Linked DNA regions of Homo sapiens: region 2 is linked to region 1. The links come from fine-mapping of genetic effects on gene expression. Tissue or cell type: B cells. Region 1 holds a variant in brackets; the other region holds the start of a gene. All regions are shown on one strand. Distances are between the middles of the regions.

Evidence for each region. PIP is the estimated chance that this variant, and not a neighbour inherited with it, causes the effect. A credible set is the group of variants that fine-mapping cannot tell apart.
Region 2: it holds the start of CCDC102A, and the variant in region 1 is the best candidate, but not a certain one, in a credible set for the expression of CCDC102A in B cells (Fairfax 2012, PIP 0.86).

What each region holds. Positions count from the first base shown.
Region 1 is chr16:57,510,824-57,513,347 of GRCh38, reverse strand. It overlaps CCDC102A (coiled-coil domain containing 102A), which reads left to right. Exons shown (of 9, transcript NM_033212.4): 9 at 478-1,167. The coding sequence ends at 607. Among named protein-coding and RNA genes, the nearest start is that of CCDC102A, 24 kb to the left of the region's middle. The variant A/G (reference allele first, on the strand shown) is at 1,434.
Region 2 is chr16:57,535,570-57,538,069 of GRCh38, reverse strand. CCDC102A (coiled-coil domain containing 102A) reads left to right here and starts at 1,499. Exons shown (of 9, transcript NM_033212.4): 1 at 1,499-1,570. It also overlaps a transcript of ADGRG5 not described here. RefSeq lists a silencer at 1,257-2,206.

The DNA.
Region 1 (2,524 bases):
CGTAAATTTTGACTTTAGGAATTTTAATGTGAGGAAGAACTAGGGCTGAGCCCTTTCTCACTGACACTGGGAATGTAGAGGGCTCAGCCCACCCTGCACTGTCACACCAACCAACTCTGCTGCCTGTGCTCTGAGAGCCAGGCTTGGGTTCAAATCCTGCAGCATGACCTTGAGCCAGCTCCTTCACCTCTCTAACCGCCCAGCTGCTCTGGCACCACCCACTTCAGTTCAGAGCTCTGCCCCACTCCCCACCATCTGTGTGACTTTGAGCAAATGACTTCACCTTTCTGTGCCTCGGTTTCCTTGCTTGTAAAATGGGGGTGATAATGGCACTTCTATCATATAAGGAGATTACAGGAGATGAGACAGCAGGGAAAGCACCAGGGAAGGCTTAACTGCTCCAGCACCAGCTGCAGCCACCTTATCGGGGGACTACCAGCCAGGCTGCTCTAACCTCCTGTCACCCCCACCCCACAGGCTCCGCAGGCAGCAGCAGAACGCTCCCCTCTTCGGGAAGATCCGCAGTGCTCGCTTTGGCACCGAGGAGGCCGAGGATGGAACCAGTGACCTGGACGAGGACGAGGACCTGCAAATCCAGGTGGCCTAGAGCTTCCTGTGGCTGGGCAGGATGGGCCGCCCCATACCTGCCCAGGGTCCAGGCTAACCAGCCACTCAAACTGATGCAGTGCCTAGGCTCACTCTGGGACCAGTCCCTGCCACAGCCGACTTTCTTCTCTCCCAGGGATGGCGTCAACAGTCCCACCTACCAACGCCCTGTGGAAAGGAAGCCTATGTTTTATATATATATATACACACACGCGCGCGCGCGCGCGCACACCCAGAAGTCTTTGGACCCATTTGGTTTTATAAATACAGGACAGCTCCAAGGCCCAGTCCAGATGACCTCACCCACCCAGGACTTCATGCAGGGCTGGGCATGTTGGGGGCAGTTGTTGGAGCCCCACCCTGGGCTGCCTCTCTAGGCTTCGCTGTTCATCATACAATGCAGTGAACCCAGTTATTTGTAATAAATGAAGTTCAAGTTCTTGGGGCATCTGAAAGTATGGCAGATGTGGGCGGGGGTTGTGGGGGACGGCATCGGCCTGCACCTGACGCTGAACCAGAGCTCAGGAATGTCAAGTAACTTAATAAATGAGTGAATGTGAAGAAGAAAGAATGAATGAATGAGGCCAGCCACGGTGGCTCACACCTGTAATCCCAGCACTTTGGGAGTCCAACGCAGGTAGATTGCTTGAGCCCAGGAGTTCAAGACCAGCCTGGGCAACATGGCCAAATCCCGTCTTTACTAAAAACACAAAAATGAAAAAAAAAAAAAAAAAACACAAAAATGAGCCGGGTATGGTGTTGATTGCCTGTGATTTCAGCTACTCAGGAGGCTGAGGCAGGAGAATCGCTTGAAGCCAGGAGGTGGG[A/G]GTTGCAGTGAGCCGAGATCACACCATTGCACTCCAGCCTGGGCAACAGAGCAAGACTCGGTCTCAAAAAAAACCCCACAAAGAATGAATGAATAAACATCTGAGCTGCTGAGCAGTCTGGTATCCACTCCTGTGGCGAGGAGGAAGAAAGTACAGTGCATGCCTACTCTAGAGACTTCAGTTCTGGCACCCGATGGATTCATGTCTCTGCCCCTTATTAGCTGTGCAACCTCTGGGAAGTTACTTGCCCTCTCTGAGCCTCAGTTTCTTCATTTATAAGATGTCTCAGAGCTGTCACAAGAATTAGATAGGTTAACCCAGAGCTCGGTAAAGGTTAGTTATATTAAATACCTAAAAGTTTTCCCTGGAGAGGAGGGATTTGCCAGGTGGGCGCAGGGGATGAAGTTCAAGTATTGATGGAAGTTTACCTAGAGGTAGATGTGGACACAATAAATTACAAACCCTTTTTTTCCCCCCAGCCCTGCCCTACATAGCGAAATTACAGGCAGTTTTATTTTTGGTATTTAATTTCTATACCTTCTATAACCAGCAGATTTATGTTAAATCTGATGGTAACAGTGATTAGAAACATGGTAGCAGGCTGGGCATGGTGGCTCATGCCTGTAATCCTAGCACTTTGGGAGGCTGAGGCAGGCAGATCACCTGAGGTCGGGAGTTCAAGACCAGCCTGGCCAACATGGTGAAACCCTGTCCCAACTAAAAATACAAAAATTAGCCGGGCCTGGTGGCAGGCGCCTGTAATCCCAGCTACTCGGGAGGCTGAGGCAGAAGAATCGCTTGAACTCGGGAGGTGGAGTTTGCAGTGAGCCGAGATTGCACCACTGCACTCCAGCCTGGGCGACAGAGCAAGACTCTGTCTCCAAAAAAAAAAGAAACACGGTAGCATACACTTTTGATCTTTCACAGTCAAAGTGGCTTTCGGGGCATCTGCTCTTTTGATGGGACCCTTTAGGTAAATTCTCAGTACCCGGGCCTGCTTTCTGCAGAAGGAAGCGTTGCCAGGATTATTCTAGCATAAAGAAGGTGGTGAGCTCCCTGTGTTTAGGGCTGTGCAAGGAGAGGCTAGGGCT
Region 2 (2,500 bases), 25 kb before region 1:
CAACTCAGTCTCCACCACCTTCCCCAGCCCCATTTCCACCTCCAAAAACTCTGGGCAAGACCTCTGGGCTCTTGATCCAAGGCTGTTACTGGCTGTAGGACCTTGTGCAAGTCTGAGCCAAGAGCCTCTCTGAGCCTTCATTTCCTCAGCTGTAAAATGTGGATGCCCTTGTCCTCTGAGTACTCAAACCCCACATACATCTCCTATCTATCTCTGGCTGGTGAACAGACGCTTTCAACATTCAGCCACGCATAACAAATACAAAGCAAATGAATCGACAAGTGAAACTGCCAGTCTTGCAACGTATGGGATTTCATGAAGTTGGTGGAAGCAAAGCAGGAGAAATGGAACAGCCGCTGCCCACAGAGAAAGGGAACGTCTGCAAGGGAAGTGACCCAGACCCGAAAAAAGGCACTGGACTATCAAAGGATTCAGAGTGATCCTTGAGTTTGAGGAAGCTCTCAAATATTTTTGCAAAAATGAATCTCTTACTGCAAAAACCAGTTCAGAAGGGAAGGATGCTACATACTCAACTATTACAAGAAAAAGCAAGACTTCCAGTGTTAACATCTGATTCATTCTTGGTTCATTTTAAGGCGTGCGTGGTTGCAATCATAATCTAAACTCCGTTAATCACGGGGTAAAACTAATTTATCTTCGTAATATTTAGCTTCTTTTTCTAGGTAAAATCCCAATCAGGCCAGGTTTTCCCCACCATCTTGGTGAATTGTTGGTCTTCTTTTAAATAGATTCACCTCGGGGGCCTTCCAGGGTACAGGATGTAGTGGGGAGTCCTCCAGACGCCTGTCCCGGCTTTCCAGTCAAGACCACAAACATCCTACCCCCAATAGAGAGAAAGCCCCAAAACAGCTGGGCGTCCCCGAAGGCGAAGTACCGTAATTCCCCAGGGCCTGCCAACCACCATCGCAATGCAGAGAAAAGTCTCCGCCCGCCGGGCCGAGTGCTCCCCGCGCCCCCCACCTCTTAACAAGCGCAAGGTTGCTTTCGTCAACCCTTCTGTTGTACAGAAAGAGAAACTGAGGCCCGATGGGCACAGACTTGTTGGCCCACTTCCACTCGGTGGCAGAGCTGGCCCAGGGAAAAATGCAGGTAACAACAGTGAAGACTTGGTAAGCTCGCTCCACGTGCCGAGCTGGGACCCGCGGTGGCCGTTTCTGCTGGGGGCGCCTAGTACGTAGTTGGCGCTGAGGAAACCTGAACCAAGAAAGCCGAGCCCCCCCGCAACTCTCGGCCCCTCACGGGGGTGGGGCCTCCGTTGGGGTACGGCCCGCTCTGCAGCAGAGCCCACCGCCCCGGCCCGCACCCCTCGCCCCGAAGTTAGGCTGGAGCCCCCACCCCAGCAGCTCGGTGGGCCGGGGTCACAGCGGGGCCGCAGCCTGCGACCGCTTCGGGGGCCCCGCCGCTCCCCCTGCTTCCCCTCCCCCCGGGAGGGAGGAGGAGACTCCGCGGCCCTCCCTCGGCCCCTCCGGCGGCGGTCGCAGCTGCACGGTGCCCGCTCTACCCCGCCGCAGCGGCTGGGACGTACGGAGCCCGCAAGTCCCGGCCCGAGGTGAGCGGGGGCGGCAGGCCGGGGGGCGGCAGGCCAAGGCGGCCCGGGAACTTGCTCCAGGCCGCGCGCCTTCCGCGGGAAGGAAGGGGTTAAGTTGTGGGGCGTGCTGGAGGAGCAGACACAGTCGGGGCGCCCGCGGCAACCCCCGAACTCAGAGCAGAACTTTCTAGACGCCTCCCCGGCCTCCCTCAGCCCCCGGAACCCCAGGTCTCCGGTGGGGAGGGGCCGCGGGGTGATGGGGGAGGGGAGGCGCCTCCGGAATGCCGCGGCCCGGGCCGGACGGGAGGGGGCGGCGGGCGGGGACGGAATTTGGGACTCTCCCGGGGGACCCAACGTGGTCGCCATGGCGAATGCGGGATGGACGGGCGGCGCTGGCCAATCAGAGCACGGCGCCCTGCCCAGAGCCGCGGCGACTGCCAATGGGGGCCATGCGGTGGGGTGGGCGGGACCGCGCGGCGCGGGCCGGGAACCCCCTCCACCCTCCGCCCGTCGCTAGGTGGAGCGGGGCGGTTCGCAGGGCCAGCGGCTTGGGAGGGGTCGACTAAGTGAGGACTAAGGCGACGCAGGGCTGGGGCTTCAGTTTCAGTACCTTAGGTGGGGGTGGTGTCCACCTTCCCACCCCCGCTCTCCCAGGGCTCTTGTGGGGGTTGGATTGGTTTGGGTTCGGGAGGTCTGCCCACCTGTTAGAGCGTTCAGGAATCTTTTTAGTGCCTCTCCCCATCCTGTAGGTAAGGAAACTGAGGCCCAGAGAGGGCAGGGACTTGCAGATATCACACAGCATATCAGTGATGGAGCTGGGACTAGCGGGATGTCTGCTGTACAAGAGTGAAGAGTTCACGGTGTTGCCGAGAGGGGTGGGGCTGGGGTCGGGGTGGGGCTGGGTCCCCATGAAGGTTCACCCCACCATTCCAGCTGTGCGTATCCACTTGG